Linked DNA regions of Homo sapiens: region 1 is linked to region 2. The links come from fine-mapping of genetic effects on gene expression. A gene starts in region 2. The other region holds a variant in brackets. All regions are shown on one strand. Distances are between the middles of the regions.

What was found. PIP is the estimated chance that this variant, and not a neighbour inherited with it, causes the effect.
Region 1: its variant is the best candidate, but not a certain one, in a credible set for the expression of TOX4 in CD4 T cells (BLUEPRINT, PIP 0.90).

What each region holds. Positions count from the first base shown.
Region 1 is chr14:21,402,908-21,413,819 of GRCh38, forward strand. It overlaps CHD8 (chromodomain helicase DNA binding protein 8), which reads right to left. Exons shown (of 38, transcript NM_001170629.2): 10 at 10,006-10,089; 11 at 6,944-7,081; 12 at 5,797-5,918; 13 at 5,405-5,648; 14 at 3,949-4,125; 15 at 2,814-2,957; 16 at 2,302-2,557; 17 at 546-756; 18 at 110-305. Among named protein-coding and RNA genes, the nearest start is that of SNORD8, 11 kb to the left of the region's middle. The variant T/C (reference allele first, on the strand shown) is at 6,591.
Region 2 is chr14:21,464,340-21,480,436 of GRCh38, forward strand. It overlaps TOX4 (TOX high mobility group box family member 4), which reads left to right and starts at 12,856. Exons shown (of 9, transcript NM_014828.4): 1 at 12,856-12,945; 2 at 13,157-13,225. The coding sequence starts at 12,940. It overlaps RAB2B (RAB2B, member RAS oncogene family), which reads right to left and starts at 12,620. Exons shown (of 8, transcript NM_032846.4): 1 at 12,488-12,620; 2 at 12,189-12,260; 3 at 10,528-10,595; 4 at 4,331-4,413; 5 at 4,018-4,110. The coding sequence starts at 12,533. It overlaps LOC124903283 (a long non-coding RNA gene), which reads left to right. Exons shown (of 2, transcript XR_007064064.1): 2 at 1,178-1,531. RefSeq lists enhancers at 12,037-12,156, 12,737-12,806.

The DNA.
Region 1 (10,912 bases), 64 kb before region 2:
CTAAGGAAACAATTCCAAACTCTGTGAAAGGTCTTTCTAAAAGATCCTATTCTTGTTGAAAAATCTCCCAAGTTAGGTAGTTAGTCCCTAAGACAATGAATTCCTTTACCTGCAGGTCATTTTGTGGATTCCAGTCTGAATCAAAGATGATGCAGGTATCAGCAGCTGTAAGATTAATACCAAGTCCACCAGCCCGGGTACACAGTAAGAAGACAAAGCGGTCTGAGTCAGGCTTGCTGAAGCGGTCAATGGCAGCCTGTCGAAGGTTGCCTCTAACTCGCCCATCAATACGTTCATATAAGTACCTGTATGGGAATCGCAGAAAAAAAATGTAAGTGGCTAAGCAGAAGTGGAGACCAAAACAGCAGGCTAGGATCAATACCAGTACTCCCATATCAAAGCTGGTCAAAAACCCAAGTTGAGAGTGAGAATCTTAAAAACTTCTCTTATTGCAATTGGTGAACTCTAATTAAATCCAGGCCCTCCTACTTTTTGCTGCTTTATGAGGACAGAGTAACCACAGGCTAGGATGACTCTTTTCTTACCTCCTCTGGATTAAATAATCCTCTAGGATGTCTAGGCAGCGCACCATCTGAGAGAAGATCAGAACTTTATGGCCACCAGCTTTAAGCTTTGGAAGCAACTTGTCAATAAGAACCAGTTTGCCGGCTGAACGAACCATGGCCTGCAGGTGAAAGTCATGAGGTATAATATGGCAAGCTTCACGGAATTCTGTTAGGATTTTTTCTTCAGCACCTGCCAAAAGAAAAATCAAATTATGTTGAGATCCAGTGAACCATATTAAGGTTGTAGTCTATTTAACTAAGAAAGCAAAAGGAAAAAAATGTAATTTGACTTAAGACCAACATTTCTCACACACAGAATTTCAGCACAAAAAAGTCTTAAATCGGCTGGGTACGGTGGCTCATGCCTGTAATCCCAACACTTTGGGAGGCCGAGGCAGGTGGATCACTTGAGGTCAGGAGTTCGAGACCAGTCTGGCCAACATGGTGAAACCCCGTCTCTACTAACAATACAAAAATTAGCCAGGTGTGGTGGCGGAGGCCTGTAGTTCCAGCTACTCAGGAGGCTGAGGCAGGAGAATCGCTTGAATTCGGGAGGTGGTGGTTGCAGTGAGCTGAGATTGCGCCACTGCACTCCAGCCTGGGTGACAGAGCGAGACTCCACCTTAAAAAAAAAAAAAAATCAGCCGGGTTCAGTGGTTCACGCCTGTAATCCCAGCACTTTGGGAGACCGAAGCGGGCAGATCACCTGAGGTCAGAAGTTCGAGACCAGCCTGCCCCATGTGGCGAAACCCTGTCTCTACTAAAAATACAAAAAATTAGCTGGGTGTGGTAGCAGGCGCCTGTAATCCCAGCTACTTGGGAGGCTGAGGCAGGAGAATTGCTTGAACCTGGGAGGCAGAGTTGCAGTGAGCCGAGATTGCACCACTGTACTCCAGCCTGGGCGACAATAGTGAAACTCCATCTTAAAAAAAAAAAAAAAAAAAAAACTTAAATCATCCTCAGATGTGTCATACAAAATACACTAAGTAAGGCAGGCCTATGATAACTGGGTTAAAAAAAGATGTAAATATGTGGACAAGGACTAAGATGGAACACACTATCAGCACCCAAAAGAGACAGAAACAGCAAAATGGAGTGTCGATGAGGACATTTATCCAAGGAACAGAGTAACCTAAGAGTGTTTTTTCTGAGACAGGGCTAGCTTCAAACTCATGGGCTCAACCGATCTTCCTGCCTCAGCCTCCTAAGTAGCTGGGACTACAGGTACATGCCACTGTGTGGCTAATCTGAGTTCTTCTTCATGCAATTCTAAACAGCAAATCCTATTTAATCTTGGAGATTATGTAGGATCAAAGGGGTAGAAAGAACTACAGAAAAACATTCCAAATAAGAATTGTTTTTATTTACTTTATTTGGAGACAGGGTCTCACTCTGTCACCCAGGCTGGAGTGCAGTGGTGTGATCTCGGCTCACTGCAACCTCTGCCTTCTGGGTTCAAGCAATCCTCCAAGCTCAGTCTCCAAAGTAGCTAGAACCACAGATGCCTGCCATCACACCTGGCTAATTTTTGTATTTTTTGTAGAGGTGGGATTTCATCATGTTGCCCAGGCTTAGAGTCTCTTTTTTAAAAGGAGAACCATTTCCCTCCCATTCCTCAGTCCGCACCCCAAATTAGGTTGGTTGAGTCAATGCATCCATTGTCCCCAAGGAGAATCATCCGGAAAGTAAACACAGGTACTACAGAAGTTCAGGTATATACCAAGCATTCCCTCACCATTGATGAGATATGGGTGGTTGCAGCACTTGCGCAACTCCATCATTGTGTTAAGTAGATTAGGCATGTTGGTATGACCTGCCCCTTTGGAAAGGAAGGAGAAATTCTTCTCCAAAATAGCCCGATAGTATTTCTTCTGGATATTAGTCAGCTCTACTTCAATAATTGTTTCCTGTTTGGGTGCCAAGTTTTTTTCAACATCCTCTTTGAGTCTTCTCAGCATCATTGGCTTAAGAATGGCCTGTAGCTTTTGAACCTGTGGTCCATTACAGAGAGAAAAATAAATCAATAAGATGAGGGCGAACATTCTCACATTATGTAGAAACATGGAAAAATTAGAGTTTTCCACTATCTAAGAAATGTATACTTTGGATGATGCCACAAATGATGTAGGCACAAGGTTATAAGGAGTTCAGAAAGGCCCTTGAGATACCCATGACAACAGATGTCTGCCTTGTACAAACTTCACCTTCTTTGTCCTGAGTTAGTACCTCATCAGATAGATTTCCTACCTGTTCCTCTGTCTTGAGATCCCCAAAGTCCTTGAGAAACTCTGATTCTGAGGGAAATTGTGACGGTTCCAAGAAATGAAGCAAGCTAAACAGTTCTTCTACAGTATTTTGCAATGGTGTTCCTGTGAGTAGCACCTTGTGTTCCTAGAAATGGAGGAAACAAAAGAATAAAATTTAAAAACATGAAGGACTTCTGGGGTTTCCTATCAAGTATATAATCTTTAACATATATAACCTTTAATTTCTTTATCTATAAAATGATGAGAATGGACCAGTGATCTGGTCCATTAATTTTTCTTCCATTTGTCCCCTCTTTCGATAAACACAAAGCATTCAAGAAATCCCTCTGACATTAATGTATTGAAATAACATAAATATTATAAGCAAATTAAAAAACAGTAATTCTGATTATGTTTATTCCAATTACACATGTCTCTCCATATTCAACTCCCCACAGATATCCTAAAATCTGCTGTCCTCTATGGAATGTAACTGAGCTGGATTAAATATGGTCATTAATTTGCTGCTGTTCCTCCTAACAAGGTTCACCCCTAGGCTTGCCTTATTACTTGCAAGAACAAGAATGTAGCAAAAGTGACACTGTGTGAGTTTCAGAGCCTATCTCAAAGGTTACTGTTTCTACTTTTGCCCTCTTGGAATACTGCCCTGAGACTACCACACAAAGCAGCCCAATCTGGCCTATGGAGGATGAGAGGCCATGTGGAACCCAGGTGCTCCAGATAAAAACCAGCATCAACTGCCAGCTGCAGCAATACTGACTCCAGGCAAGATCATCATAAGAACCAACTAGCTGAACTCAGCCTAAGTGGTTGAGCTAGAAGATCATGAAAAATATAGTTGTTGTAGGACATTAAGTTTTGGAGTATTTTGTTATGCAGTAATAATAGGTAACCAATATAGTTTCCCACCTCCTCTTCTGGTTATCACTAAACTTCCCAATTCTAAAATGTATGACTTTTACACGACTTTCAGGTTACCATTCCCATAGGTCATCCCCACTGTTCAATACCACGATTCAGACTTTTCTTCTCTGCTAAACTAGGGTTATTTTAATACCGCAAGGAATTACGGTTTATTCCAGGTGTTTCTGCTCACAAGTCAGTGTGGAACTCACCAGGTCCATGTGCTTGAGACTATCAAGCAGCTTGCAATTACGGTTTTTCAGTCGATGGGCTTCATCAATGATAACACAACGCCATTCAATTTCACGAAGCTCAGGACAATCTGACAAAATCATCTCAAAAGTGGTGATCAGAGCGTCAAACTTGTATGCGCCTGGGATGAGGCGTCCCTAAGCATGAAGGCAGTAAAGTCAGAAAAAACCAAAAATGTACCTAAATGAGGAGCTTTTCTGAATTACTTGCCTATATTAAGGCATGTTTAATAGGCAATACAAACTGCACCACCACCCACCTCCACCGCTGTTTATCTTCCTGAAAAATAGTGCCATATCACTGAATGTAAGATACATTGCTTCCTCAACATATTCAGCTTCTTGGGAAAATGACAGACTCACTGAATGAGAGGCTAGACATTTTTTACTCTGCTGTATGCCTAGCTCATGTATCTCTGCCCCAGATCTTTTGTTGATTAACAATGAAATCCACAACTGCTGGACAATGCTGAACCATACAAGATAATAAAAATGAAAATAGCTAATACAGAACATAATATTGGCTGATGTCTAAAAATTGACAAAAGAATGAAATCATTTTAACAAAATTAAAAGCTGCAAAATATGATGAAAAGATGTGATTTGGTAGAAATAAAAAAAAGAAAACTAATAGAGAAACAATAAAATTCATGTTAATACACGATGGATAATTCCAATTTTGTTTTCAAATTTACATGGAAAAAGGAACTGATCCTTTTTTTTTCTTTTTTTGAGACACAGTCTCACTCTGTCACCCAGGATGGAGTGCAGTGTGACGATCTCGGCTCACTGCAGCCTTCGCCTCCTGGTTTCAAGCGATTCTCCTGCCTCAGCCTCCTGAATAGCTGGGATTACAGGTGCCCACCACCACACCTGGCTAATTTTTATATCTTTAGTAGAGATGGGGTTTCACCATGTTGGCCAGGCTGGTCTAGAACTCCCGGCCTCAGGTAATAAGCCCACCTCGGCCTCCCAAAGTGCTAGGATTACAGGCATGAGCCACCACGCCCGACCATTTAGAAAAAGAAACTGATCTTGATGAAAATTTCCGTAGACTAAAAAGAGGAAAAGAAATAAGCTCACCACCGCATGGATTAAGTGGCTAAAGGAATTTAATTTTTGTAAAATACTGTGATTAAAATTCATTGATGCTGACAAAATTCTACTTAAAATGTGTATGTTCATAAATAAAATCAGAACTTCTACCAGATCAAATGTCTACTAGGTAAAAAAAATAGCAAAGTCAAAAAAATGCCCTGCACACTGCTATACAAAAATGCCTTAAACCATAGGCATTTTTGCATAGGCATATTGAAGACTTTCAATAAAAGTCTTCTATTCATATATAGCCCTTAAAATACCAGGTACCTTGGCCGACTTTCTCTAACTCATAGTATTCCCAAGACATGCAACTCACCCGTGAATCTTTGCAGTACATTTCATACTGTTGAATCATCTGCCTGCTGGCCAGACTGCCATGGTACACAATAGTGTTCATTTCTGTCCATGTATTAAATTCTCGCTCCCAGTTAGTAATTGTGGACAGTGGGGCAATGACCAAGAAGGGACCATGGATGCCCACATTATATACTTCCTGCAAGAAGGCAATGGACTGAATAGTTTTGCCCAATCCCATCTCATCAGCCAGGATGCAGTTCTGCCTGCAGATTCACCATGGGAAAAAAAAAATGTTAAAAGATACTATCTTTAAAAAAAATAGAGTATGTAGGAAGAAATTGTTTCAATAGAAAACAAATAAAAATAATCCCAGAACTAAGCTTACATCTTATGGCCCATTCTTTCCTTTACCTGTTATACCAATTAAAGAGCAGCCAATTAACCCCTTCCAACTGATATTCCCGTAGCTGGTTTCTGTTTTTATATTCATGTGATAGCTCCAATTTCTTCCAGGCACTTGCCTGCGGACGATTCTAAAAAACAAGACGTTTGAATAAATGGAGTGGAGACATTATCAAAAGGTAAGACTTACTAGGTAAGTTCTAATAGTTAAAATCAATTCAAAACAACATTGTTTGGATTAAAACATGTCAAATATATTTAAATTTATGAGTTCATAACGTTACTTTATGGGTCCATAATGATCACAAATGGCTGACAACATCACAAAACACAACCTGATGGAAGGACACACCACCATCTATGAAGCAGTTACTGGCTTCCCTCTCTCATCTGATCAAGCCTGTAGAACAGTGATGTCTAATAGAGCTTTCTACAACATTAAAAATAAAAAAACAAACAAAAAAACACGGCTAGTGGCTACTGTATTAGACAGCACAGCTCTAAAATGTTTTATTGGACAGTGTAGCTCTAAACCTAAGCATTCATGTGAAACATAAGGGACAGAGAACATGTAAAAAAGTACCAAGGGTAATCAGCAAACTTCAGCCTATGGAAAATCCTACAAAACAAATCACCTGATTTCTTCATGAGAAAATTATAACGGAGGGAGAGGAGGAGATTAAGGGGGAGCTTAAAAGAAACTTGAGACATATTAACTGATAGCAATATATGGACCTTACTGAGAACCAAATTTAAATGATTTAACAAAAATTAGAAGACAATCAGGGAAATGTATGCAATGA[T/C]TGGTACCAATGACTTGATGATATTAAAGAATGATTAAATTTTTTAGGTGTAATAATGGTATTATTTCTTTTAGGCAAAAACACTGTAATATTTACAGATGAAATAAATGAATCTGGGATTTGATTTAAAATAACCTGGGAAACAGGAATTAATGGGTAGGAAAATATATGACACAAGACTGGATATGTACTGATAATTGTTACGTGGGTGATGGGTACATTATACCATTTCTTCGATTTTTATATGTTTGAAATTTCCATAATAAAAAGCTAAAACAACAAAAAATTTCATAGGGGAAAAAATTTAATCATTTCTTATGTAGGCCTTTATACTTTAATGCAAATGTACTTACCACCCTTTTGAGTTCTGGGTGCCTTGACTGAATCCGTTTAAATTCTCGAATCTTGCCCTCATCAACATCTTCTTTTAGCTCCCATGTGCTATCCTCATAGGGCAGAGAGCACCATTTCACCAGGTAGTAAATAACGGGCTAGGAGAGAAGAAACCAAAGCCTTAAGAAACTGATTCTGTGTTCTCTGCTCCAGTTAAAGAATAAAAATTTGATTGTAAAATCAGATCACAAAGTATCAGTACCTAGAAGCCGTTGAAAAAGTCAGGCCAAACACATCGACCAAAAGTTCACCTTCTGATGCACTATATGGCTTTGATCATTCTTCAAAGCAATTTATCAGAATCTGTTCTAAAAGGAAAATTTCTACCCACTAGTTTCTATCACACTAAGCACTAAAACATGCTCGTCAACTAAACAGATGAAAAAAAAAAGACTAATCTTTTCCTATACCATGTTGAAATTAAAAGATATGTTTCTGTGCCATACTATTCTCCTGGAGCCAAATTTGACACAGTGGCAGCTAGGCTACCTTTAGGATGAGGACTATCAGCTTATACTGGCTTCTGGGCCCCTAGAGCTCATTGCAGATGCACCTCAAGAGCACTTACATGGTGATAAAGAAATGTCCTTGTGAGCCCCAGGAAGCTAGGAGCTAACAAGAGGTTATCACCAAAAAGAGGTACTAAGAGTAAAGAAGGAAGAGAAAATGCTAAAAAGTTCAACTACAGTAAGTACTAGTTTATGTAGGTATTCCACTGAAAGTGAAGGGGCAGTGACCAATGGTAAATGGCTCCTATTTTCACTATTCAAGATGATCACTGCACTTACTGCATCTCCATTTTTGGCTTATGAAGTATAAAGCAAGGATTAGATTGGGCCTAGTGTAATCAACAAGAATCTCTAATTATCAATTCATAGAAAACTTAAAATAGCCAACAAAATATGTGAAAGTGCCTCAAGGTAGTCACAGATCTCGAATCTCTGGAATTGATCCAGCTGCTTGCTCTTTTACCTTTTTCTTTATCATAGTAACTCAGGTCACTCTCTATATAAAGCCATTTGTCCAGGTCACATATTTCCAGCATAATATCTATTTATTTCCACCATTAGGTAATATAAAATGGATGACAAACTTATTTTGCAGAGGTGGGGAAAATGGGTATATAGAATAGTATTAGCCAATACTGGGAGCATAAATTATAGTATTAGAGTATGAAAACATTATCATCTGTCACGTCATTTGCAAGACATTCCAAAGGGGCCTAACTAAAGGCCAATTGCTTTTAGAAGGGTAGGTATGATTAAAAGCATAAGACTGTCAAGGCTGGAAAGGCTGAGATCCTGAAAAATGATAAGAATTTAAGAGTAGCTAACAACCTGCCCTAAAACCCGGCCCATTCTCCATTCAACTCACACAAACAAACACACAATACTACCACCCCAACTTCAAAAGCAGAATACGTTATGTGAAGCATGCTTGTTAGGATTTAAAGACAATGAATTCTACCGTGTCCTGGATATCTAAGATTCTGAGGCTCTGAGTGAACCTGAAGACTTATAAAGTAGAATAAACTTCGGAATTTTATAGAGGAAAGAATTTAACTCAGAGGTCCTGTTAGAATGATGTATGGGAGGATCAAGTCACTTGAAAAAGTCATGAAAAAGCCCAGCTCACCCACTGAACATTAACATCTTAAAAAGGCTCTGCTGTTCTCTACTGGTCACTGTATAAAGTGTCAGATGTGATAGAAATTTTCTTTATGATCCTGCTAAGCTAAACCAAAAAGTGCTACTGGAAGGAAAAATATAAAGTGACAAATTCTAAGAAAATGATGGTTTATAGCCTAAAAAAAAATTAGAAGTAAATTTAAAAGAAAGCTGAATTCACTGGTGGCTAAGACCTAGATGACCATTTGAAAATGAAAAAGGTGCCAGGCGTAGGCGGCTCACGCCCGTAATCCCAGCACTTTGGGAGGCCGAGGCAGGGAGATCACTTGAGGTCAGGAGTTCGAGACTAAGCCTGGCTAACATGGTGAAACCCTGTCTGTACTAGAAATTTAAAAACTAGCCGGGCATGATGGCACACGCTTGCAGTCCCAGCTATTCAGGAGGCTGAGGCATGAGAATTACTTGAATCTGGGAGGCGGAGGTTGCAATGAGCCAAGATCACACCATTGCACCCCAACCTGGGTGACAGAGTGAAGATGGTCTCAAAAAAAAACCAAAAAAAAAGAAAAAGAAAAAAGAGAAAAATAAACTAATTAAAATACAGATTCAAATGTAGATCTGCTTTTTTGTTTGTTTGTTTTTTTTAGACGGAGTCTCACTCTGTTGCCCAGGAATGGAGTGCAATGGCATGATCTTGGCTCTCCACAACTTTTGCCTCCCGGGTTCAAGCGATTCTCCTGCCTCAGCCTCCCGAGTAGCTGGGACTATAGGCACGTGCCACCACACCTGGCTAATTTTTGTATTTTTAGTAGAGACGGGGTTTCACTATGTTGGCCAAGCTGGTCTCAAACTCCCAACCTCGTGATCTGCCCACCTCAGCCTCCCAAAGTGCTGGGATTACAGGTGTGGGCCACCGCGCCTGGCCAGCAGATCTGTTTTAATGACAAATGAAGAGACATTTAACTAATGGTGAGTTCAGGAAGTAGCCCATTCTCAAGAACATGATTTGTAGAAAGCTAGGAGCGAGCCTGTAGAAGTATTTTTATATTCACAAATTTAGGAATTTGTGAAGTATCCCTTTCCCCTTCCCAACACCCCACCTCCAACTGTATGTCAAGAGTCTCCCATTTAAAATATGAGGAAAAATGAGACCAAGATGAATGACTTTTCAGTACTTAGCCTCTACATGTCTGACTTTACAGAAATCTTTCCTTTTAGCATCTCTCCCTACACTCTTACCTCCCATTATCTTTCAAAGGATTCCACAGAAAAATTTAGAAATACCTTTTCAGTCCAAGGGATTCTGCATCCATACCCGAAAAATAAAGGATTGGCAAACCCACCAGCAGAAATCTAAGAGGATGTTCACGTTACTCCATGCCTCAACAACTCACCTCCCCATTGTCCTTGTCAATACTGTGAGACTCATCCAATATCCTATCCACCTCTACGTAGTCTGGATTAAAGGGCTCTTCATCCTAGATGAGTTAGGAAACCAAACAATAAGACCAAAAGATCACTGTCCAGTAAACCCACTCCTCTACCTCACCTTTAGCAGAGAATCCTACTTCAAAATTTTTAAAGAAATTAGAAGCTATCCGATGGGTGTTCTCCTTTTTCATAACAGCAAATCCTATGAATTTACCAGGGTCTATACCTGACTTCTCACCTGCTACCAGTGAGTGTCTCTTTCTAACAGAGGTCCTTCTCTCCATATATGCTCTGCTGTTCATTGCTTCTTGTATTCTTAGGAATCCCTCTACCGAGTCATTGCCATAAATACACGTATATGTTCCACATTTCACATTTTAAAATAAGACCTCTTTTTATTCTACAACTCCCGCAACTATTTTTCTACTCTGCTTTATACCTAAACCTTTTTTTTTTTTTTTTTGAGGTAGAGCCTTGCTCTGTCATCCAGGCTGGAGTGCAGTAGAGCGATCTTGGCTCACTGCAACCTCCACCTCCTACGTTCAAGTGATTCTCCTGCTTCAGCCTCCCGAGTAGCTGGGATTACAGGTGCCCGCCACTATGACCGGCTAATTTTTGTATTTTTAGTAGAGACGGGGTTTCACCGTGTTGGCCATGCTAGTCTCAAACTCCTAACTTCAAGTGATCTGCCTGCCTTGGCCTCCTGAAGCGCTGGGATTACAAGCATGAGCCACTGCGCCCGGCCCCATACCTAAACTTTTTCAAGGGTTTAAACACATGCTATTTCCATTCCTTCATCTCTTTCACTTGTCCATCCATTCCACTTTTTCTTCTACTTGCAACATACAACCAAAACTACTCTTATCAAGG
Region 2 (16,097 bases):
CAGTAAACTGAGATCGCGCCATTGCACTCCAGCCTCAGCGACAGAGCAAGACTGTCTCTTGGGCGGGGAAGAAAAAAAGGAAAACTCTAGTTACTAGAAAGCAGAAAAGTCATAAGATGTCCCATCCAGCAGTGATGAGCATCTTCCTTTTTTACTGGAATCAAGCCACAAGAAGAGAATGAGCCAGGAATAAGGAAAACACAGTTGTCTTAAGTCTCACTGGTTTCGTTACTAGTGCATATAAAAGCAGCTTGCCACCAGGGAATTCAGAGACAGTGATATGGATAAAATTAGGTGAAAAAAAAGATAAGAGCTAAGGACTGAAAAAGGGAATAAAAATGGCAACAAAAGACCTTATGAAAAACAGGATAAAAGGCTGCAGAGCTGGGCGTGGTGGCTCATGCCTATAATCCCAGCACTGTGGGAGGCTGAGGCAGGAGGATTACTTGAGCCCAGGAGTTTAAGAACAGCCTGCACAATACAGTGAGACCCTGTCTCTACAAAAATTTAAAAATCAGCAGAGCGTGGTGACACATGCCTGTAGTCCCAGCTACGTGAGAGGCTGAGGTGAGAGGATCTCTTGAGCCCTGGAAACAGGTTGCCGTGAGCTGAGCACGTTACTGTACTCCAGCCTGGGCAACAGCACGAGACCTTGTCGCAAAAAAAAAACAAAACCAAAAAAACAAACTGAAGAATAAGGCAAGGTTGGGCTGTTTGTGATTCGTATTTTTCAATTTGAAAATTTTCATTTGGGAGGTTTCCAGTTTTCCAACTCCTTGGAAAAAAAGTGTAAGACCATTAAAGAACAACAAATCTACAATATTTTAATTTATTATACCATCAGCTGTGTGAAGACCAGGGAAGATCTAAATGTCAACCCTCCCAAATTTGTACCTCTAGCCCAGATGCTTGACTAAGCACCAGATTTGTACATTTGTGAATTCTTCATTTCCACACTGATACATAAAACGGACTTCAAACTTAACACATCAAAATGGAACTTCTTTTCCCCTAGCCTGTGTTTGCTGCAGGCTTCTGTATCTCAGTAAATGGCATAAGCCAAAAACCAAAGTGTTATTATTGATACCCTTTGCTCCCTACTCCAAATATCTAATCCATTCCAAAGTGAAGTACTTCCAATATGTACCTTAAAATTATCCTTTCTTTCTCTTTCCAGGGTCACTTCCTAGACCAAGCTACCATTCTTTCTCATGTGGACTATTGCAACTGGGATACTACTTCAGTCCTTGTTCTCCTCCAGAGTGATCTTTTAAAATCTGATCAAGCCACTTCTCTACTTAAAACTTTAAAATGCTTCAGGTGTATTTATTTATTATTATTTTTAATCCCCCATCTCCCAAGCTTCAATTTCCATGTATTTAGAATAAAATCCAAAACCCTTACTCAGGCCTCTAAGGTGCTATAAAATCTGGTCCCTACCTACTTTTCCAACCTCATCTTGCACTATTCCCTCTTGATTTAGTCCAATCACACTAGGTTTCTTTCAATAAACGTGTCAAGCTTCTTCCAAGTTCAAGGTGTTTGTATAGTTTGTTCCCCCCAAGTAATACCCTTTTAAAAAAATCTTTGCCCAGCAGGCTCTTGCCCATCCTTCAGATCCCAGCTTAATATCACTCCTAATCAAAAGTAGGTACCCTGTTATTCTTTCGTAGCACCCTTTTTCCTCCATTGCATTTATCACAATTTACAATTTGATACAAATAATTTTATATTTAACATCTATGCCCCCACTAGACTGTAAGCTGCACAAGAGCAGGGGGACGACTTTTTTCCACCTTGCAAACTCAGAATCTGGCACAGTCGTTTTCAATACATTGACTGATACACTAAAAATAATTAGCAGGATGGGTGTGGTGGCTCACGCCTGTAATCCCAGCACTTTGGGAGGCCGAGGCAGGCGGATCGCCTGAGGTCAGGAGTTCAAGACCAGCCTGATCAACATGGAGAAACCCCGTCTATACTAAAAATACAAAAAAATTAACTGGGCTTGGTGGCACATGCCTGTAATCCCAGCTACTCGGGAGACTGAGGCAGGAGAATCGCTTGAACCCAGGAGGTGGAGGTTGCAGTAAGACGAGATCATGCCATTGTGCTCTAGCCTGGGTGACAAGAGTGAAACTCCATCTCATAACAAACAAATGAAAACAAACAAACAAACAAAAAACCAATTAGCCTGTGGCCACAGTTCTCAAATAGTACACTCTGGGCACTACTACAAACTCACAAGGGTGCCATGGGATACCTCAAACTTTTGAGAAAAACACAGTAACACTCAACACAAGGATACTTACTACATGAATTACAAGCTTAAGACAGTTGCAATGTCAATATCAGACCATGATAAAATTCGTTCAATATCTTCATATCTCTGAGAAGCTGTTTCTGGCAGTTGCTGTTATAAAAAAGCAAGCACTACACAAAAATCAATATGAAATGGGAAATGAGAGTAGCAGTGTGCAATCGTGATTCCAAGGTTTGAGAAGCTATGCAGTGCCCAACAGACACATAGAGGTCTTTAGTAAGTAACTGTTGCTATTTAAGAATGAAATAATTTTTTTTTTTTTGAGACAAAGTCTCACTCTGTCGCCCTGGCTGGAGTGCAGTGGCACTATCTCAGCTCACTGCAACCTCCGCCTCCCGAGTTCAAGCAATTCTCCTGCCTCAAGCTCCCAAATAGCTGGGACTAGAGGTGCGTGCCACCACGCCTGGCTACTTTTTGTATTTTTTCAGTACAGACGGGGTTTCACCATATTGGCCAGGCTGGTCTTGAACTCCTGACTTTCTAATCTACCCACCTCGGCCTCCCAAAGTGCTAGGATTACGGGCTTGAGCCACCACGCCTGGCATATTTTTTCTTTTTTTTATATAGGGTCTCACTCCTGTTGCTGAGGCAGGAGTGCAGTGGTACAATTACAGCTTCATTGCAGCCTCGACCTCACAGGCCCAAGTGATCCTCCCACCTCATTTAAAAATTTTTTTGTATAAACAAGGTCTCACTATGTTGCCCAGGCTGGTCTTGAACTTATGGACTCAAGCAATCCTTCCAGAGCTGGGATTACAGGCATACGCCACTGCGCCTGGCCTTTTTATTTTCAAACAGTTACTAAGCGGTTATAAAAAATACTCATGTTGTTTGGGTATAACTATTTAACAAAACTATTAGGTATTTCTTTTGGCCTATGGGTGTCAAAAAAAATTTACTGATAATAACCAGTGTTGTTAAGGATGTAGAGAAACTGGAATCCTTGTACATTGCTGGAAAGAATGTAAAATGAGACAGCTGCTATGGAAAATGGTATGGTGGTTCTTCAAAAAATAAAAGAATTACCATATGATCCAGCAATCCCACTTCTGGGCATATACCCAAAAGAATTCAGAGCTGGGACTTGAACAGATCCATGTTCATAGCAGCATTATTCACAATAGTCAAAGGATGGCAGCAACCCAAGTGTCCATGGACAGATGGATAAACAAAATATTGTGGTATATGCATACAATGAATATTACTCATCTTTAAAAAGGAAGGAAATTCTGACACATGCTACAATATGGATAAACCTCGAAGACATTATGCTAAGTGAAATAAGCCAGTCACAAAAGCACAAATATTACATGAGTCTACTTGTATGAGGTACCAGTAGTAGTCAAATTCATAAAGTAGAATGATGGCTGTCAGGGGCTGAGGGATGAGGGGGATGGGGGAGGGAAGATGGAGAGTTAGTGTTGAATGTGTATAGAGTTTGAGAAGATGAAAAAGTTCTGGAGATGGATGTTGGTGATGGCTGTGGAACAATGGATATTCTTAATGCTACAGGACTGTATGCTTAAAAATAGTTAAAATGGTAAATTTTGTGTCATATATATTTTATCACAACAAAATTTTTTTTTTTTACTGAAACACTAAGACCACTATAAACTGAGAAAGTTTGGGGATCAATGTGCATAGAGTACCTAGATGACTCCTGTTAACTATTATTCACATGGATACAATTTTACCTCTTATTCCCAATGAGCATGATAACCATGTTGGAACTAGAGTGCTGCCGGGCATCCTCTAACCATGAGGTCAGGTGGTTGAAGGTTTCACGCCTACAGCAGAAAAATTTAGAATGTGGGTCAGAGACACATTTCAAAAGGCCAAAACAACTCCAAGCGTATACGAAAAGAGGGGAAGCCATACGTGTAAAGAAAAATATTAGAGAGGCCATTCCTAGTTAACATCCTTAACAGAATCAGTAGATAGAAAAAAAAAAAAAGCTTTAGAGGATTTAGGGAAGAATCTCCCTCCCATGCACCAGATCTGGCTCACCTTGTAATGTCGTACACCAGCAGTGCTCCAGCTGCTCCCCTGTAGTAGGAACGGGTGATAGAACGGAAGGATTCTTGCCCAGCCTTTCCCACCAACATGGCAACAAAAAATCCCAACAAAACCAGGTTATTTCCACAGAACCGACTTGATCACATGCCACCCTAATACAAAGGACTTAACTAAAAAAAGAATTTCTATTACGAAAAGAGAATTAGGGAAAGAAAACATGCCTGCCCGAGAAGAAACCCAAGTGGGAAATCAATATTTTTCTATGGGAGTGCATTGATATTTTGGGCAGTCACTTACTCTTCCTGAGAGACTGTCCATCAGATTAGTGGATGTTTAGCATCCTAGATCCCAGTCACTAAATACCTGTGGCACCCCAGTCAGCACGATAAAGACGATGAAGACATTTGCATACATTTCCCAATATCCTCATAAAAGAACAACTGGAAATAGGACTGGAAACGGAGTGTATGTCATTTTTTTCAATCCCAAATATGATATTGAACACACCATATTAATCTTTCTGTTCCCATTTCTTTATCTGTAAAAAGGAAAGTTATCTTAGAATGCCAAAACCTGGTCTAATAGAAATTTCATTCCAATGAATCAATATAAAAATTAGATTAAAAGCACTTCAACTGATTATCTTCTAACTGACCTTTAGTGTTCCACTGATAATGCAAGACTACCTAGATGTCCCTTGCTGGGCTTCTGTCATGGGAAATAGGAATAACAAACAGAGAAAGAAGCCCAGGGCCCAGCATAGAGTTTTCCTAGAAAAATCCAAATGTTCACACTCTAATCTCATTTCCAGTTGGACAAAGATATTAAGTTCTATTTAAAACTGAGTAATTTATTAATGCCCCCATAATACTGGGTACTTTTGCTTTCTTGATGGACTAGTTCTTTTTTTTTCCTTTAGGGAAAACAAAAACATTTTTTAAATAATATGAATACCCTGTACATTGAATCTATCCTATTAAGAAAGTTTTCACATTCTTGAAATAATTTATCCTTACATCCCTACATAACAGGAGGTAAGACTATAATTTATAGGTTACAAATGGGAGAATCATGATTAAGGATGTGGGAAAATAAATGGCTTTCTCATAGTATAATACCAGTAACAGTGGTAACACTAATTATAACACTGCAATAGTACTATAAACTACTTTTTGGCATATAAAATGTGCTACGAACTTTAAGAGACAATTACATATATTATTTCATTTACTTCTCTTAGCAACCCTGGGGCCGATATTATTATTCCCTTTTTTTTTTTCTTTTTTTTTTTGAGAGGGAGTCTCGCTCTGTTGCCCGGGCTGGAGTGCAGTGGCGCAATCTTGGCTCACTGCAACCTCCGCCTCCCAGGTTCAAGCAATTCTCCTTGCTTCAGCCTCCCAATTAGCTGGGATTACAGGCGCCCACCACCATGCCTGGCTAATTTTTTTGTATTTTTGGTAGAGATGGGTTTTCACTATGTTGGCTAGGCTGGTCTTGAACTCCTGACCTCATGACCCACCCGCCTCGGCCTCCCAAAGTGCTGGGATTACAGGCATGAGCCACCGTGCCTGGCTTATTATTTCCTTTTAAAAATGGGGAAAATGAGGCTCACACAAGTTTAATAAACGGCCCCAAATCATAAAGCTTATTAAGTGCTAGAGCCATAATTTAAACTTAGGATCTTAGTACTTCCTAGGACAAAAACTTGTCCTCTTAGCCACTATATCATATAACCTAAACTGGGGTTTGTAGGTGAGAAGAGAATTCCAGTATACTAACTCTAAGGTTAATTTTCCAACAACAGAAGAATCTCTTTCTATAAGAATCATAGAAACATGTGAGTGAGTTGCATAGCTGTTAGAGAATCAGAATCGGAAAATAAAAACTAATTCTGAAGTCCCCTGTCATAATACTAATAATATTTTAAGATTAAAAAAATACTTACAGTTTTATATTTACTCCCTAATGTCTTACGTTATTTGGGTCTTGTTTTCCTTTTAGCACTTACTTTTTCTCCTCTTCTGCTATGGTTGTAAGCCTCCCTCTACTTCCCTCACAGCCTACCAAGAACTAAAAGGGAAAGTTTGAGGGAGGCCCACATGATGGTTCAATCACATGGCAGCATTTATCTTTAGCAGCTGAAAATGCTATCAGTGGGTCATGAGAAAACCTTTTAAAATCAAATCACTCACCAGGCGCAGTGGCTCATGCCTGTAATCCCAGCACTTTGGGAGGCCAAGGCGGGCAGATCACGAGGTCAGGAGTTTGAGACCAGCCTGACCAACATGATGAAACCCCATCTCTGCTAAAAATACAAAAAAAAAAAAAAAAAAAAAAAAAAAAAAATAGGTGGGCGTGGTGGCGCACGCCTGTAATCCCAGCTACTCAGGAGGCTAAGGCAGGAGAACTGCTTGAGCCCGGGAGGCAGAGGCTGCAGTAAGCCAAGATGGCGCTATTGCACTCCAGCCTGGGCAACAGAGTGAGACTCTGTCTAAATTAAAAAAAAAAAAAAAATCACTCTACTTCATCTCATTCCAGTTCATGAGCCAAAGTTTGTGAACCAGTAAGCTAGAAAGAGTGAGCAGTTCAATTTGGTCTTGTCTATATCAGTCTCAGGTATCCTTGGCCATCCCCAGTAAAAAAATCTGAAGCAGCAGGCTGGGCACCGTGGGTCATGCCTATAATCCCAGCACTTTGGGAGGCCAAGGTGGGCAGATCATTTGAGCTCAGGAGTTTGAGACCAGCCTGGGCAACATGGTGAAACCACGCCTCTAAAAAAAATACAAAAAATTAGCCAGGTGTGATGGCACACATCTGTAGTCCCAGCTACTTGAGGGGCTGAGGTGGGAGGACTAGTTGAGCCGGGGAGGTTGAGGGTGCAATGAGTGGAGATGGTGCCACTGCACTCCAGCTTGGGTGACAGAGCAAGACCCTGTCAAAAAAAAAAAAAAAAGAAAAGAAAAGATGCAGCAGCAACGAACTAAGATGAAGGTTTTTTTTTCCTTTTTTTTTTTTGAGAGGGAGTCTCGCTCTGTTGCCCAGGCTGGAGTGCAGTGGCATGATCTTGGCTCACTGCAACCTCCGCCTCCCAGGTTCAAGTGATTCTCCTGCCTCAGCCTCCCCAGTAGCTGGCATTACAGGCGCCCGCCACCACACCTGGCTAATTTTTTTATTTTTAGTAGAGATGGGGTTTCACCATGTTGGCCAGGCTAGTCTCAAACTCCTGACCTCAGGTGATCCGCCTGCCTCAGCCTCCCAAAGTGCTGGAATTACAGGCATGAGCCACGACACCCGGCCTAGATGAAGGTTTGATAAGATAATTAATAGCTTTCTAATCTCTCCCAAGTGGAAGCATCATACTATATTAAGATATACAGTTTGAAGTATCAACTCCTAGAAAGTCAGATACACCATTTTCCTAAGAATCAAAATGCATTCCTTCCAATGAACGGTTTATTAAGGAAAAAAAAATTTTAATTGCATTCCAAAGTAAAATACAAACCAATTTGATATTATTTGATCAGTATTTTATATTACAGTAAAATACCTATTCATTAGCATGATTATTTAGGAATACGTGTATACACACACACACACGATTTTTTAAAATATGCTTCTCTAAATCCACATAAATGCCAGAACAAAGACAACAAAAACCTTTGGACAACCTGATCTCTTTAAAATACCTATCACAGTAATCCCTAAACATTTTCATGTAGGATGGGTTTGGAAGTAAGTGAGAGAATGGGTCAATAAAGTGGGAAGCTAAGATGGGTAAACAATGGGCAGGAGATCAGGGCTGACAACGGAGAAATGACCAGACTTACCCAAAAGGCGACAGACTAGATGGACACATTATTATACGTATGAATCTTTTAAAATTTTCAAAATATATAGAAAACCACAGTGTTCTGAAACTGGTTCCTTTTTATGATTTAGCAAATATTAATCTCAAGACAATTTTAAGAGGGAACAGAAAAGAACTAGGCCAGTTGGATGACCATGTAGTTCTTAAGGATTCTGTCCAAAGTCGTGGCTCTCAACTTTCCTTTTTTGTTTGTTTTTCTATGTATGCATTCTCAGCAGAATCAAGCTCTCAACTTTCTTACTTTCATGATCCAACCATGTCCCATATGAGTGCTTAAAAAAAAAAAAAAAAGGCCATTGCCATGACCATTCCATTAAATGGCACTTATTGGGTTTTTTTCCCCAGCATCAAAACATTCATCTGGGCCAGGTGCCAAGGCTCAGGCCTGTAATCCCAACACTTTGGGAGGCTGAGGAGGGCGGATCACTTGAGTCCAGGAATTCGAGACCAGCCTGGGAAACATGTTGAAACCCCCGTCTCTACAAAAAATACAAAAATTCCCCAGTGCAGGGGATCAGGGGATAGATCTGTAGAGATAGACGGATAGATGGATGGATAGACAGATGAACTTAAGCTTCAACTACTTTTAAGACATACACTTGCGTGTGGTGAGGAGCATTGGGGAGGGAAGGAGAGGAAAGGGAGGAAAAGAAAAAAGGAAAAATAATGTGTACACTGTTTGCAGATATAATGGCTTTAGCTCTCAGTTCAGAGAAGAAACAGAATCACATAGTAAGAAGTAAGCAAAAAAAGTAAGAGATTTTAGCCAAATATTATTTACTAGCTATTTACTAGCTCCCTTTAACTAGAATGGAGACTAAGGTATTATTTTACTTAGGGGGAAAAATGTACAAATCAAATGAGATAATGCACATGAAAGCAATTTATCTGGATAGGGCAAAACTACACTAAGCCAAGCTAAATTTTGGCATTACTACATGTATCAAATTTGAAAATATGTACAAGCTTTTGACAGAGTTTCCATTTCTGGGCAGATATTCCACAAAAATTCTCAAACATTGGCATAAAAACTTTGTAAATAAGGATGTTCAGGCTGGGCACTGTGGCTCACGCCTGTAATCCCAGCATTTTGAGAGGCCTAGGTGGGTGGATCACCTGAGGTCAGTTCAACACCGGCCTGGCCAACATGGCAAAACCCCATCTCTATTAAAAATACAAAAAACGTCCGGGAGTGGTGGCTCACACCTGTAATCCCGGCACTTTGGGAGGCTGAGGCGGGCGGATCACGAGGTCAGGAGATCGAGACCATGCTGGCTAACACGGTGAAACCCCCTCTCTACTAAAAATACAAAAAATTAGCCAGGCGTGGTGTCAGGCGCCTGTAGTCCCAGCTATTCGGGAGGCTGAGACAGGAGAATGGCACGAACCCGGGAGGCGGAGCTTGCAGTGAGCTGAGATCACGCCACTGCACTCCAGCCTGGGCAACAGAGTAAGACTCCGTCTCAGAAAAAAAATACAAAAAATACAAAAAACATTAGCCACGTGTGGTGGTGGGTGCCTGTAATCCCGGCTACTCAGGAGGCTGAGGCTGGAGAATTGCTTGAACCCAGGCGGTGGAGGTCGCGGTGAGCCAAGATTACGCCATTGCATTCCAGCCTGGGTGACAAGAGTGAATCTCTGTCTCAAAAAAAAGAATGCTCAGTGAAATTCTGCAATACTTAAAAATTGGAAAACAACCCAAATTTCTATCAGTAGGATGATGGTTACATAAATCATGCTACTGACATTCCATGACTACGCAGTGGTTAAAAGGAATGAGACAGATCTATATGTATTGATATGGAAAGGTCCCCACAACATAGAGATTGTTTAATATACAATCTAAGTCACACAACTAGGTCTACTCTGTCACGATTCTATACATGTAAACACTAATAAAAACAAAACTACTACCATATATTTCTATGTGTTTACATGTATGTATCTAAATGCATAGAAAAAGTCTGAAAGCATACACGTGGAATCATCAGTAATGATTTCCCTGCTAGAGTACCAACCAAGATGGGAAGGGAGAAAGAGTTTATGTATCAAAAGGGGACATTTACTTTCTATTCTATAAATTTATATTGTTTGATTTTATTTTTACTAGAATAAACTATTACTTGGATCGTTTACAACACAAAGATACAGCATCCAGAATTTGTAACTGTAACAGAATCAAAAACTTCTCTCTTTGATTTCACCTTTCCCCTACTTTATCCCCACCATTAGTTCCACCCTCATCGCCCCTTTCCTTTGCATCAGCTTTTCTTGTTATACTTGGATATTGGTCAGAGACTAAATTATTTTGTACTCTCACCGTATCCCAGATTTGCAGTTTGATTTGTTTTCCATCAATGTTGACCATACGAGCTCCAAACTCCACACCTGTCGGTAAAGACCGAGAGAAAGAATGTGATTCTCACGAACAGCAGCCACGTGGAGTGGGAGGTTCCTGCCTTTCCTCAATGTGTTATAACCATCCTTTGTCTGAACTCAATGCCACTAATTCCATTATTGCTGCCTATTTGCTCCAATTAATTTTGTGTTTCTTAAGGTTCTTCATTTCCCTTCTAGAATTAAAAAATTGTGCTCAATGACCTCAGGAATGTAACCAAAAAGCAGATATGGGAAAATAAAACCAATTAAGAAGTCAAATTTAAAAAGGTGAATACTTTTTTAGCAATGTTAGGTTAATGCTTAAATTTGGTTAGGTAACATTTAGTTTTGTAACTTTTCCAAAAAACTAAAAATTTTGGAAATATTTCCTGACACTTTCTCAGTCACTCTTTAGTCTCTACTTAAAACAATATTTATTTTTTTGCAATTCCAGATGTTTTTCTTTAAGAAAAGAGCCTAAGAAATAGGTTCTCAGAAACAATACTTTTTTTTTTTTTTTTTTGAGATGGAGTCTCGCTCCGTCACCCAGGCTGGAGTGCAGTGGTGCGATCTCAGCTCACTGCAGCCTCCACCTCCTGAGTTCAAGTGATTCTCCTGCCTCAGCCTCCCAAGTAAGTACCTTACAGGCACACGCCACAACGCCCACCTAATTTTTTTAACAATACATTTTACATTTCCAATAATTGCCAGAGGCACAATTAAGCATTGTTGCCTTGTTAAGCATTGTATCATTAGCCCCTATCGCAAAGTGAGAATTCGCTCAATATTCCCTTTAAAATACCTTTTAGTTGATACTGCCAAATCCTTTTCTAACCCCATCAATTATTTGACTCTAAATAAATCCGTTAGGAACAGTGGTAGCTTCAGGTTTCCATACAGGTGGGACTTGGAAGTAGCAATATGGTAAGAATGGGGATGTAGGGGTTTATTTAGAAACTGCATTTGCATGGCAAGAAAGCTAGTTTCATATATGTTGTTTATTTGGACTGGGGTTACGGAGATAACGAAGAGGGGGTAGTTAAAAGCCTCTTCAGGCCATGCCTTATCACAAACGTGTGGGAAAGGTTAATATTTTCCAGGATCGCCAGTGCGTTTGAGGAACTGTTAACACACTCTTTCATTTAAAAGGAAAGTTTTTAGTTTTATTTGCCTATTAATTCTAAGGCAGGGATGACTCCTCAATTTGCTTCTTCACCAATATAAAAAATGTCCATGTATTGGTGTTTACTTTTTAAAAGTAAGGCTGGTATTAATTTACCTCAAAGCACAGATGAGTTCATAAATAAGCAGTTATGCTTTCGTGGGATTTTCCATAAACATACAAATTGTATTTGAAAAAAAATTATATGACGAGTCTATACCTCACACTCTAAAAAGTTACCTTTCAATTATATACTCTCCCTTACACTACTCCCCACATATCAACGTTTCATTGGTCACTTCATTAACATAAGTTTGGACTAGTTTAAAGTAGTGAGGGGTAACTTTTTACTTCGAACACTGAAGGCTGCTAACTTTCCACTTTAGCAATTTAGCTAGTCAGGTTTTATCATCTGTTCTGGAACAAGTAGATGCACTTACCTATTGTGAGGTCGTGGACAGGCTGGAACCGCTTATCTGTAAACTGCAGGAGGAGACATGACTTCCCCACACCTGAAAGAGAAAGCACACTCCCGGAATCACGCAGCCCTGGAACACCTTCCAGAGTATGGACTTCCCGGACCAGAGAAGGGGGGCTCCCGAGCCCCGCCCCCGGCCGCCCCGAACCGCCCCGCCCGTCTCGAATCGCCCAGCCCACAAAGTGAGCCCCGCCCCCGCCACCCAATTTGGGAGCTTCGAATGCCCGCCCGAGCCTTGAAGGCGAACCACCTGAGGGTTACCTGTGTCTCCGATGATGATATACTTGAAGAGATAAGCATAAGTCATGGTGTCGCGTCCTCTGGGTTCCGGGTCCGCCCGACTTCTATAGCCACTTACCTCCGACCTCTCTAGCCACTCAATCTACCGATCTTCTTCTTCTCCCCCTTCCCCCCGCTCCCCCGCCCCTCCGGCTCCTCTAGCCCAGATCACGTCTCTATTGCACTCCCCGGAATCATCCTTAGGTCGGGAGTACCCTACGCCACCTCCAGGGACGCTTCTAGCACTTCTACATGCCCTTATCCCTCCAAACTCCAGGGGGCGATAGCCCAGCGCCTGACTCTCTGCAGCCCCACGGCGCTCCTTCCAATCAGCAGAGAGAACACACGTCCTTGCGGAAGTGACGGCAGTTCCGAGTCCAGTGGGGGCGGTGGGAGCGATGAGGGTCTGAGACGGTGGGAGCGGTTGTGTGAAGATGGAGGTAGGAACCTGATAGCTAAGAAGGCTGGCGAGAGAACGCGGCCGACCGGGTTGAAGCAGGGACGGGAAGCCGGGCGGAGAGGCGACTGACGGGAGAGGAGAGAGAGCGGGGTTTGGGGAGTGTTGTCAGAATGTCAGGGTCAAAAGCCATCGCTCCAAGCTGACTCCCTGCTCCCCCTAACTTATCCCCGCGACTTTCTTTTGGTTTCCAGTTTCCCGGAGGAAATGACAATTACCTGACGATCACAGGGCCTTCGCACCCCTTCCTGTCAGGGGCCGAGGTGAGCCAGAGCTGCCGACGCCGCGGGGGTAGGGCCTGAGGCAGCGGTGGGGTAGGGTAGTGGGGAGGAGAGCACGGACTCCGGGGACGGGGGCTGGGAACCAAGGGCCGCAATTGGTGTTTAGAGAAAAGTGGCGGTTGCTTCTAGAGCCTGTGGGGACTATCTGGGGAAGTCTTGGGAAGTTGCTGTCATCAGAAAGCAAGGTATTGGAAAGAGATAACCTGTTTAAAGAGAAAAGGGATTCTGGATTAGAAGACAGAGTGGAATTGTCTCCTTTCTCTGGGGAGAAATAGCTACAGTAATCTTAGGGGATCGCAGTGGAAAGAAAATGTTTCAGCAGCTGAAGAAATTGGGGTTGAGGGGAGGAGCTTATTGGTTTTCTTTTGTTTTGAGACAGAGTCTCGCTTTATCGCCCAGGTTGAAGTGCAGTGGTGCGATCTCGGCTCACTGCAACCTCTGTCTCCTGGGTTCAAGCGATTCTCCTGCCTCAGCCTCCCGAGTAGCTGGGATTACAGGCGTGCGCCACCACGCTCGGCTAATTTTTGTATATTTAGTAGAGATGGCAGTTTCACCATATTGGCCAGGCTGGTTTCGAACTCCTGACCTCAGGTGATCCACCCACCTCGGCCTCCCGGAGTGCTGGGATTACAGGCCTGAGCCATTGCGCCCGGCCTAAATTTCCTACTTTGATAAAAAATTTGTGGTTACCTTTACCTACATGGTGTCAGCTTGTTTTGCTAATGTCAGGAGGAAAGGAAATAGCTGCTAGAGAATATAAAAGAGTTGAGTAGGACATGTGTTTCAATTTGCCAGTGACTCAGACGTTGGGCACATTACTTCATCTTTGTATGTCACAGTTTCCCCAGCTGTCAAACAGCTGTAATTATAGTTTCTTATGCTGTTTTAAAGTAGAAGTAAAGGTTATGATGAAACCCTGAAGTGTTCGTTAAAAAAGTTTGGTTGAAATATTGTCATAATATAGATATGTATCACTTGTTTGGGAGAGGCAAAAGAGAATGGTGGAACAGACAAAAATTTCTGTCTTTGAGAAACTGAAGTCTTGAACCATCTGCCATTTTTTGAGGACTTTTATATTTATTTTCAAAAGTGGTGTGGACCATTTGCATCAGTTTTTTTTACCAAGAATTGTCAGTGGCTGTTGCATGGGCTTATCCTATAATCCTAACGTTTTCATGGATGAAAATGGGGTTGACAAGGGCCAGTTGCTAGTTTAACTTTTTTTTTCTTTCTTTTTTTTTTTGAGACAGTCTCCCTGTAGCCCAGGCTGGAGTGCAGTAGCACGATCTTGGCTCACTGCAGCCTCCACCTCCTGGGCTCAAGTGATTCTCCTGCCTCAACCTCCCAAGTAGCTGGGAATACAGGTGTGCGCCACCACACCCAGCTAATTTTTTTTTTTTTTTTGAATTTTTGTAGAGACGGGGTTTCACCCTGTTACCCAGGCTCTTTAACTCCTGGCCTCAAGTGATCTGCCCGCCTCAGCCTCCTAAAGTGCTAGGATTACAGGCATGAGCCAATGTGCCCAGTGCCAGTTTAACTTTTTTGTTGCTTTTATTTATTATTCTCATAAGCAGGATAAGTGTGAATCTAGTATGCAGCAAACTTTGAAATGATATAAAACCTAAATCTGGGCCCAGCACAGTAGCTCGTGCCAGTAATCCCAACTGTTTGGGAGGCTGAGGCAGGAGAATTGCATGAGCCCAAGAGTTCTAGACCAGCTTGGGCAACGTGATCAAACTCTGTCTCTATAAAAGATAATAATAATTAATTTTAAAAAAACAGGTGAGGCGGGGTGCGGTGGCTCATGCCTGTAATCCCAGCACTTTGGGAGGCCAAGGAGGGCGGATCACGAGGTCAGGAGTTCGAGACCAGCCTGACCAACATGTGAAACCCCATCTCTACTAAAAATACAAAAATTAGCCGGGTGTGGTGGTGCGCGCCTGTAATCCCAGATACTCAGGAGGCTGAGGCAGGAGAATCGCTTGAACCTGGGAGGCAGAGGTTGCAGTGAGCCGAGATTGCGCCATTGTACTCCAGCCTAGGTGAACGAGTGAGACTCCATCTCAAACAAACAAACAAAAACAGCTAAAATCTGCTTGGTGCTTTGCACTCTTAGTTGCCATTTTCTTCTAAGTGAGATCTTCATTTTTAAATTTCATTATTTGAGTGTTGCAAATCTCACATTGGACTTACCTGCATGAAATTCCCAATTTCTCCTCAATCAGGTCTCCACAGTTTAAATTTTGTTATTTAGAGTGTTATAAATTTTACGTTGGCCTCGTTCATGAGAAAGTGCATTTTAAAATTAAATACAAGTAGCTTTCAAGTTTACCCACTGTTCTTAATTCTCTACCCCATTTATGAAGTTGAACAATCAAGAGGTAGCCACATTTAAAAAAGTGGTTCCTTTTTGCTTTTGCTTTTGTTTTTAATAGAGACAGGATCTCACCATGTTGTCCAGGCTGGTCTCAAATTCCTAGGCTCAAGCGATCCTCCCACCTTGGCCTCCCAAAGTACTAGTATTGTAGGTGTGAGCCACCATGCCAGGACAGAAGTGGTTCCTTTTCACATCAAGAAACTTCCCATGAAGAATCATGGTGTATAGTGAAGAAAAGTAAATTTAAAGTATTAACAAGTAATATTATAATAAAAAAGAAAGAAACTTTCCAGGTTTGAATCTGTCCTTTGTTTTTGTTTTTGTGACTTAAGAAATCTTATTTTATTTTGCCAAGAAACTGATAGCTAAGTTTTAGGCTCAATTTCAGTAGCTTCCTTTGCCTAAGGCTCCTGTCATTGTTAACAGTTCTCCATTTTCTCATTACAACTTCTACACCTTCCCTTTCCCTTGGTAGCG